Regions from separate parts of the Homo sapiens genome. Here region 2 is linked to region 1. The links come from fine-mapping of genetic effects on gene expression. Tissue or cell type: esophagus muscle. Region 1 holds a variant in brackets; the other region holds the start of a gene. All regions are shown on one strand. Distances are from middle to middle.

Region 1 (5,149 bases):
GTGTGTCCATGTTGTTAATCATCGGCGCGAGACAACTAACTACAGGTATTGCCCCAGAGGAAGTGGTTTCACTTTGAATGGTTTGGCACTATTGTCAAATATCATACTTGTTATAAGTCTTTGCAGATTTTCTATTTATTCTTGAGTCAGTTTTGGTAGTTTGTGTGTTTGTAGGAATTGTTTTTCAATGTATTAGGGCATCTAATTTGTTGAAATACAATGTTCATAGTATTTTCTTATAATCCTTTTTATTTCTGTCAAATCAGTGGTAACATCCCCTCTTCTTTTTCTAAAAAAATAATTTCAGCTTTTATTTTTGATTCAGGGGATACATGTGCAGGTTTGTTACATGAGTATATTGCATGATGTTGAGGTTTGAGATCTGAATGGTCCTGTCATCCGGATGGGATACTAGTGAACATAGTACCCAACAGTTAGTTTTTCAACCCTTGCCCCCTTCCCTACCTCCCCCCATCAGTCCCTAGTGCCTATTATTGCCATCTTTATGTCCATGAGTACCCAATGTTTAGCTACCACTATAAGTGAGTACATGCAGTATTTGGTGTTCTGTTCCTATGTTAATTAACTTAGGATAATGGCCTCCAGCTGCATCCTTGTTGCTGCAAAGGACATGATTTCATTCTTTTTATGTCTGCACGGTATGCCACGGTGTATGTGTGCCACATTTTCTTTATCCAGTCCACCATTGATAGGCACCTAGGTTGATTCCATGTCTTCACTACAGTGAATATTGCTGTGATGAATATATGAGTGAATGTGTCTTTTTGGTAGAACAGTTTATTTTCTTTTGGATGTATGCCAGTAATGGGATTGCTGGGTCAAATGATAATTCTGTTTTAAGTTCTTTGAGAATTCTCCAAATTGCTCTCCAAAGTGGCTGAACTAATTGACATTTCCACCAACAGTGTGTAAGTGTCCTTTCTTCTGCAGCCTCACCAGCATCTGTTGTTTTTTGATTTATTAATAATAGCTATTCTGATGGGTGTGAGATGGTATCTCATTGTGGTTTTGATTTGCATTTCTCTGATGATTAGTGATATTGAACATTTTTTCAAATGTTTGTTGGCCACTTGTATGTCTCCTTTTGAAAAGTGTCTGTTCATGTGTTTTTTGCCTGCTTTTTAATGGAGTTACTTGTTTTTTATTTCTTGAATTGTTTCCTTATAGATTCTGGATAGTAGGCCTTTGTTGGATGCATAGTTTGTGAATATTTTCTCCCATTCTGTGGGTTGTCTATTTACTCTGTTTATAGCTTCTTTTGCTATGCAAAAGTGCTTTAGTTTACTTGGGTCCCAATTGTCAATTTTTGTTTTTGTTGCAATTGCTTTTGAGGACTTACTCACAAACTCTTTCTTGAGGCTGATGTCCAGAATGGTGTTTCCTAGATTTTCTAGGGTTCTTATAGTTTGATATCTTACATTTAAATCTTTAACCCATCTTCAGTTAATTTTTGTATATGATAAAATGTTTGTATATGATAACCCATCTTCAGATAATTTTTGTATATGATATGTAGGGGCCCAGTTTCATTCTTCTGCATATAGCTAGTTAGCTATCTCAGCACCATTTACTGAATAGGGAGTCCTTTCCCCATTGCTTATTTTTGTCAAGTTTGTAAGAGATCAAATGGCCATAGGTGTGCAGCTTTATTTCTGGGCTCTCTATTCTTTTCCATTGGTCTATGTGTCTGGTTTTTTTTTTTTTTTTTTTTTTTTTTTACCAGTATTATCCCCTCTTTCATTTCTTATTTTAGTTTTTGATATTCCCTCTTTTGTTAGTCTGGCTAAAAGTTTGTCAACTTTGTTGATCTTTCAGAGAACCACATTTTGGATCTGCTGATAGTTTATATTGCTTTCCTATTCTCTATTTTGTTTGTCTCCATTCTTTATTATTTCCTTCCTTCTGCTAGCTTTGGTCTAGTTTCCTCTCCTTTGCTAGTTTCTAAATGTGTAAGTTCGATTATTGATTTTGCACATTTCTTCTTTTTTAATGTAGGTGTTTTTAGGTATAGATTTTCCTCTGAGCATTGTTTTTGCTGCATTTCATAGGTTTTGGGAGTTTGTGTCTTCATTTTAATGCATCTCTAAGTATTTTCTAGTTTCCCTGGTGATATCTTCTTCAATCCATTTGTTGTTTAACAGCATATTATTTATTTCCGCATATTTGTGAATTTCCCAGTTTCCCTTCTGCTATTGGTTTCTAATTTCATTTCATGATTGTGAAAAGTAAAGTAGAGGTTCCTCTTCAAAGACTTTCCTCCCCATCTAATTAGGAAGAAATAGTAACTTCTCTTAGAAGCAAAATTTATTCAAAGACCTGGGCTAACATTCTTAAATATCTGTGAGCTGTAATAAAGAAATCAATGTACTTTATGTTCTTAGCTTCCACAATTTAGCCTAAATATTTGCCCTGGCATGCTTATACTGGTCCAAGCAAGCATTAGGATAGCCTGTTCCTTTTCCTTATTTGAAGGTGTTTTTACCTTTCTCAGCATTCCATAAATTACTTCCTCCTTCCTTTGTTCTCCTCTGCCTTTGCCTCTTTTAAAAAGTTCTAAGTTGCTAGCCAATCAGGACTAATACAGAATGTGAGGTTCCATTCCAGCCAATGGAGACTGGACATAGCAGTAGGGTGGACATGTCAGGTTATAAATGACCCTGTCTCCCTTGTTCAGTGTACTCTCATGGCAGAACAGCTGGCGAGTGTACCCTTTCTGCAGAAAGTAAAAATGCCCTTGCTGAGGAAATTAAATTTATGTTCAAGTAAATTTCTTTATGGCACTGGGAAACAAGCATTTCTAACAATTTTGGTGGAAATCCGTACATGGATA[C/T]GTTCTCTTCTGGGGGCGGTCTCCAGTCCTTTCTCATGAGGGAGCACACTCCTCTGCCTCATTGCAGTGGCCTCAGGGATATGGAATTAAGATCCACCTGGTGTGATGAATAAACCCAGACTCTCAGCAACGCAGGAAAAAAAAAACAAAAACTGGCTGGCGATCTGGAGTAAAGGATCCTCACATCCACGTGAACCAGGAAACTCTGTGCCCAAATCGACGAAAAAAAAACACTGGGAGAGCCGGTAAAGTATTTCCTTGGGGTGGTTAAAAAGAGGTGAGAAATCCCCATTGGGGGGGTTAAACCTTAAAAAGAGGTAAGAAATCCCCATTGTAGGGGTTGAACCTCAAAAAGAGGTGAGAAATCCCCATTGGGGGATTGAACCTCAAAGAGGTGAGAAATCCCCATTGTGGGGGTTGAATCTCACACAAACCTCCGGTAGTAAATATATATTCAAAACTCCCCTTTCCTCTCTTCTCAGGAAAAGAAAAAGGCTAAGCTCCACTCCCACCAGTTGCTCCCCTAGGGGAAGGGGAAGGAGAGGGGGGAAAACAGCAGCATAGGTGGCTGGCAGAGGCGAAGTCCAGCAGGGAGGAAAAAGAAACCAGGAAAGGAAGTCAGAGAGAAAGAGCAAAAACAGCAAGCGTGACACCAGACAGGCGCACCAAGGGTTAAGTCCCTCTCCCCAGCCCAGCTCTATGTGAAAAAGAGGGTGGGGAACGGCGCCAGGAGGAGAGCAGAGGAGGTGAAAGGGCATAATTATTGCAACTTGCAGCAGGCATCTGCCAAGCCTCTGGGCCAGTGATGGCCCGGGGTCTGGACTGCAGCCCCACAAATCCCACCCAGCCCAAGAAACTGAGTGTAAGAAGAAAGGAAAAAAGTAAAAAGGGAAATTGGGAAAAGAAAAAAAAAGCAGATGAAACAGACGGCAGTGTGTGTGTGGGGGCGGGACCCATGCCATTGCCCGGCCTTGCCGGCCGGCAGGAGCAGGAGAACTTGGGAGGGAAAAAGGAACAAGGGATGACGGAGAGAGAGAGAAAAAAAGAGAGTGCAAATGAGAGAGAGAAATAGAGGGAAAGAATAAGTAAGAGACAGAAATCAAAGAAAGACAGAGGGTGAAACTAGGAAAAGAAATAGTGTAAAAGGAAGGCAGAAAGTTAAGACATGTTGAAGATTGTCTGTGAAAGTCGTAAGAAAGGTTATAAAGGGAATTTATGCAAGAAATATTGTATAATTTAAAAGTAATTAGGCCTCCTGAATGTAAAACTATTAAAAAAACAGTTTATGTACAAAGTATGTAAGAAAAATAAAATATACTTTTAATAAAAGGATTATAAGGAGGCATAAGAATATGGATTTTTACCTACATTAAAAGGTTTAAAAATTTTTGTTTTAAAGGTTTAAGCAAGTTTTAACATGTTAATTGTAAAGGAAATTCTGTGTGTAAACATTTTGGCTAAAGGTAAAGGGTTTATCATCCAGTTTTGCTGTGAACTGAACATTAAAATAAAACCACAATAGTTTATTCTTAAAGCACTAACCTGCTCTTTAACAAAAAATTTAACATGTTAAAAAGAGTCTATAAAAATCTTACCTTATAGTCAGACATTAAAATTGGATAATATCTACAAGATTTTATTAAAATTAAGTTTAACATTAATAGCACATTAATATAAAGGTAAAATTTAACTTACCTGGTACAAAATCATACAAAAAGCATTGTCAAATATAAAATGGTGTTTAGCTTTCTTAAGGTCCGAGGGCAGCTGGGTAAGTCACAAGCTCCTCATCCCCAAGGCCACAATGTGCAGGGGAGATGAAGGCCACTAGAAGGCCAAGACCTTAAGAGGGGGCAGGGCTGCAGCATCCTGTGAGTGGTGCTGAGCAGGAATGGAGTGGGAGGCATCACCATGGGACCTCAAGCCCCAGAATATGCAGCAAAAATTATATACTTTTTATCTTCCACTTTCCCTTCCCTCAGAACTAAAAGTCTTTTAGCACGGGTACCAGCCCTAGAATTTCCAGTACACCAGCAGCAGCCTGGAAACCACATCCTCATCAAAAGACAGAAAGAAAAAAACTCGAGCCAGCCTGAGAAGGACCCTATTTTATGCTGTTAACCACTGAGACTGCCATCCTCACAGCTGAGAAAGGATGGACCCACCATACTCAAGTCAAGAAAACATCTTCCTCGTCAGAATCATGGGTTACTGTACTAGGATTAAGCCTTACTAAGTTAAAGTTAAAGAAAGCTTAATTTTCATATACCTTCTATATTGCTTCTTTTCCTTTCCTTA
Region 2 (5,149 bases), 28 kb before region 1:
CTTGTTTTACAATTTATAATCTCCCCTCACACCTCCCCCAAGTATATACTTTTCTCTAATTCCCAGCTCCATGGTTGCTTTAGAAATGGTTTACCCTCATCACGAAATTTAAGGTGACGTTAACAACTCAGTAATCAAGAGAAATACCTTTTTTTTTTTAAATTGAGACAAGGTCTCACTCTGTCTCCTAGGCTGGAGTGCAGTGGTGTGATTTCAGCTCACTGCAACCTCCGCCTCCGGGGTTCAGACGATTCTCGTGCCTCAGCCTCCCGAGTAGCTGCGATTACAGGCACATACCACCATGCCCAGTTGATTTTTGTATTTTTAGTAGAGATGGGGTTTTGCCATGTTGGCCAGGCTGGTCTCGAACTCCTGCCCGTCTCAGCCTCCCAAAGTGCTGGGATTTGGGGCATGAACCACCGCACCCGGCCAAGATGAATAATTTAATGCATTATTATTATTTTTATTATTATTATTTGAGACAGGGTCTCACTGTCGTCTATGTTGGAGTGCAGTGGCAGGATCACTGCTCACTGCAGCCTGCATGTCCTGGGCTCGAACGATCCTCCTGCCTCAGCCTTCCAAGTGGCTGGGAGTACAGGCACACACCACCACACCCACATGGCTAATTTTTTAAGTTTTATTTAGAGACGGGGTTTTGCCATGTTGCCCAGGCTGTTCTTGAACTCCTGGACTCAAGCAACCTTCCCACCTTGGCCTCCCAAAAGCGCTGGAATTACAGGCCTGAGCCACCGTGCCTGGCCCTAATGCACTATTTTAATAAATAACAATTAATGCAAAAATCTGTGATGAGGACCAGGCACTGTGGCTCAGGCCTGTAATCCCAGCAGTTTGGGAGGCCGAGGCAGGCAAATTGCTTGAGCCCAGGAGTTTGAGACTAGCCTGGGCAACACGGCGAAACCTTATCTCTACACACAAAAAAAATACAAAAATTAGCCAGGTGTGGTGGCCTGTGCCTGCAGTCCCAGCTACTCAGGGGGCTGACACGGGAGGATGGCTTGAACCCAGGAAGCAAATGTTGCAGAGAGCTGAAATCGCACTGCTGCACTCCAACCTGGGCCACAGAGAGAGACTCTGTCTCAAGACAAAACAAAAAAACCAGAAAAACAAAAAACCAACCAAACAAACAAAAAAAAACTATGATGAACAAATTATCAAAATTTTAAATAAAGGAAGGATCTAGCACTGTAGTTGCATGACAGTACCTCATTCTCCTTACCCCAATTTCAATAAAATTTTATTTATAAAAACAGACCACAGCTGGGTGTGGTGGCTCACTCCTATAATCCCAGCAACTCAGGAGGCTGAGATGGGAGGATTGCTTGGGTGACAGATCCCCCACTCAACAAAAACAACAACAACAACAAAAACAGGCCATCATCACAGGTAATAAAAGAAAAAATACATAACTTGGACTATATCAAAATTTAAAACTTCTGTATATCAAAAGATGCAATGAACAGAGTAAAAAGACAACTCATAGAATGGAAGGAAATATTTGCAAATCACATCTGATAAGGGGTTAATATCCAGAGTGTATAAAGAACTCCTACAACCCAATAACCAAAAAAAAAGAAAGAAAGAAAGAAAAAGCCACTCAGATTTTAAAATGGGTAAAGGACTTAAAGAGATATTTCTCCAAAGAAGATATACAAGTGGCCACTAAGCACATGAAAGGATGCACAACATCACTAATCATTAGGGAAAAGCAAATCGAAACTACAATGAAGTATCACCTCACACCCATTAGGATGGCTATGTAAAAAACCCCAGAAAATAACAAGTGTTGGTGAGGATGTGGAGAAACTGGAACCCCCATGTACTGTTGGTGTGCACCTGTATCTATAAAATGGAATATTATTTAGCCTTAAAAAGGAAGGAAATTCTAATATATGCTGCGATATGGATGAACCTTGAAGACCTTATGCTAAGTGAAATAAGTCAGTGACAAAAATGCAAATACTGTATGATTCTACTTACATGAGATACCTAGAGTAGTCAAAATCATAGAGACATAAAATAGTAGAATGGTGGTTGCCAAGGGCTGGGGAAAGGGGGAAAAGGGGAGTTGCTTAACTGGTATAGAGACTTAGCTTGGCAAGATGAGAAGAATTCTAGAGATCTATTGCACAACAATGTGAACATACTTAACACAACTGAACTCTATACTTAAAAAGTGGTTTGGACGGTAAATTTCATATTTCCGTGTATTTTACCACATCTTTATAAAAGGGAGGCACGGACTAGTTTCCAGGTTTCATTCACATAAACATTGCAATAAAACATTTACCTTGATGCCCAGGAGGTAAATATCCCCCTCCACACCAGCACAAAGGCAGGCAAGGACCCCCAGTGGCTTTTTCCTCATGATTGGGTGGGGCAAGGGAGAGAAAAAGATGCCTCGAAACGAACTTGGAGATCTCGTGGCTCCTGGAGCAGGCCACTTACCTTGTGGGCACATCAGGGTATTGAGTGTGTCGGAAAACACTTTCCAGCTCCTCCACCTGCAACAGCGTGAACTTCGTGCGCCGAGTTCGTGGCTGCATGTTCTCGGGCTGCGGACCCTCCATGGCCGCCTGGGCCGGCTCCTCCGGCGGGGGCTGCGGCTGCTGCCGAGGCTCCTGGTTTCCACCGCCGCCCTCGGGGATCATGCCGCCATCGCGGTTCATGCCGTTCTCGTGGTTCACACCGCCCTCAGGGTTCATATTACCCATGAGGCCTGGAGCTCCTTGGCCAACATGGCCTTCTGCGCTTGATGCTGCCCCCAGCTGAGGTGTGGGGCTTATTTTTACCTGGTATACACTCAGGCAGTAGAACACGGTGTCGTGGACGAGCGAACGCGCCATGGCTGGAGCGCTGCGCCCCTGCACAAACTCCGTGGCGTCTGCAGCTGGAGTGGGGGTTAGAGGGTGGAGCTAGTTCCTGTTCTCATGCTTGGTATTGGTTACAGTTGCAATGAGTGGGACTTGCTTATGCGCACAAGCAAGAGAGGGAATGGAGAGGAGTGGGGGGATGGGAAGTTGGGGGGTGCGGGTGGGGAGTGGGGGTGTTGCAGGTGGGAGTGGGGGGTTGTGAGTGTGGGGTGGGGTGCAGGTGGGGATGGGGGTGTGGGTGGAGGGTGGGGGGTGCACAGTGAGGGTGGGGGTTGCGGGTGAGGGTAGGGGTTGTGGGTTGGGGTGGGGGTTGCCGGTGGGGGTACATGGTGGGGGTGGGGGTAGCGGGTGGAGATGGGAGGTGTGGGTGGAGGGTGCGTGGTGGGGGTAGGGGTTGTGGGTGGGGGTGAGGGGTGTGGTATGGGTCGTGGGTGGGGGTGGCAGTTGAGGGTGGAGTGGGGTGGCCAAAACACAGGGGCAGTGTGGAGAAGAAAAGGGCCAATAGGAGGCATATATGTATGCAACATGGGGCCCCAGCTTGCAGCTTTGCTGACTACACCCTACTCGGGCCTAGTTATTACCCTGAGGAAAGCTGATTTGGGGGCTCAGAGGGGAGGTGAGATCTCACGGTGACCATAGGACGCCTTGAGTAAAAGTTTGGAGAATATCTCATGGCCTGACCCTCCATATTTGGCAGCATGCACAGGGCGCGGGCTATTAATTAAGCAGAAATGATTGACTGGGGGCTGCTTGTTCAGAGTTCCAGCAAAGGCACTGAAAGCAGAGCTGCCATGCTCTCTTCAGTGCTGGGATCGGGATCTTGGAGATGGGCATGCAGAGCATTCTGGGTGGTAAGATGTGCTCTGCAAGAAATCTAACGCACCCTTTGAGAAAGTCAACACAGAATAAACACGAGGCTGAATCTGTTAGCCTGAGACTGAATATCTTTGGCTATGCAAGAGAAACCTGTACTCATGGCAAAATGGAGTGCTATAAGGACAAGCAAAAAATAAATAAATAAATAAAATCGGGGATGGTATAGGAAGAGCACCAGTAAGGGCATACCTGCCAAAAATCTCCAATCTTGGGATGGAGATTTGGGATTTAAGGATATGCAGCTTACTGGATGTGGGGCCACTTCTGCTCCACAGAGCCTTGTAACTACACAGCCTTCCTACCACTGACCCCAATAAGCCCAATTACGAAGAAAAACCCTGAAGAGCCTGGTGCAGTGGCTCCTGCACTAGTCCCAGCTACTCAGGAGGCTGAGATGGGAGGATCACTTGAACCCAGGAGTTTGAGGCTGTGGTGAGCTAGAATCACATGGCAGCACTCCAGCCTGGGCAACAGACAGAGGCCCCTTTTCTTTAAAATAAATAATAAAATAAGAAATAAAATGAAAATGAAAGAAAGGAAAGCGCTAAGAGAGTCTGTCATGAGGAAGGGCATGGAGATGTCTTTTGAGGGTGGACAACTCATGAATCCTTAATTTTTCTAGAGATTGTGTGTGTGCTCTTAAGTGATGTTATATACTTTATTTTGTTTTTTAAAAATATTTTTAAAAATTTTATTTTTAAATGTTCTTTTAAAAACTTTCTGTATCTATTTATATCTATTGGTTATTTGAGGTTTTTTTGGCAGCATATATAAATATGCAGACCCTTTGAGTCTGTAGCCTACCAAGAGAGATAGCTCTCGTCTTCATGGTGATTCTGAGCATGGAAAGGCCCTTGCACTTGGCAGCATGACAAGGACTAAGCCACTCGCTCCATTAATTGACTGCCATCCACTGGGCTAAGTGAGATCCTTGCGTTCTATCCCTAGTGAGAGAAGAGAGAGGAAGAAGAAGAAAAATAGAAAGATAATAAGAAAATAGAAAAAGAAATGAATAAATGTACATTGTGGGGAGCAGGAAAGGACTACCAGTAATGGGAGGCATCAGCTAGGAGCACAGATCCGAAGCATGACTCACTGTGTGTCCTAGGACACTGGATGAATCTATCTGGTTCTCAGCTTCCTCACCTATAAAATGGAGATAACAACAGTGTCTCGATCATAGGGTTTTCATGAGAGTTCAATGAGGCAAGGCATACATGTAACTGAACACAGCTCCGACTGCTCACCAGTTGCAAAGTCCAGTGAACAAGAACGACGTCTGGTAGAAAGAAAGTGGCTTTATTCCAGAGCTAGTTGAGGGGAAGTAGTACAGGCTGCCTTGAGGAAGCCACTAAAGCCTTTGGGGCAGAAGGCAGGAG

Evidence for each region. PIP is the estimated chance that this variant, and not a neighbour inherited with it, causes the effect.
Region 2: RHOXF1 starts here. The variant in region 1 is fine-mapped to the expression of RHOXF1 in esophagus muscle (GTEx, PIP above 0.99). The same link has a PIP of 0.9 or more in aorta, atrial appendage, ileum, left ventricle, stomach and transverse colon.

What each region holds. Positions count from the first base shown.
Region 1 is chrX:120,140,805-120,145,953 of GRCh38, forward strand. It overlaps RHOXF1-AS1 (RHOXF1 antisense RNA 1), which reads left to right. Exons shown (of 5, transcript NR_131238.1): 4 at 2,919-3,096; 5 at 4,834-5,149. Among named protein-coding and RNA genes, the nearest start is that of RHOXF2, 15 kb to the right of the region's middle. The variant C/T (reference allele first, on the strand shown) is at 2,852.
Region 2 is chrX:120,112,996-120,118,144 of GRCh38, forward strand. RHOXF1 (Rhox homeobox family member 1) reads right to left here and starts at 2,918. Exons shown (of 3, transcript NM_139282.3): 1 at 2,470-2,918. The coding sequence starts at 2,867. The region is part of intron 1 of RHOXF1-AS1 (RHOXF1 antisense RNA 1); the gene reads left to right. LINC01402 (long intergenic non-protein coding RNA 1402) reads right to left here. Exons shown (of 3, transcript NR_126557.1): 2 at 4,867-4,916; 3 at 4,647-4,714.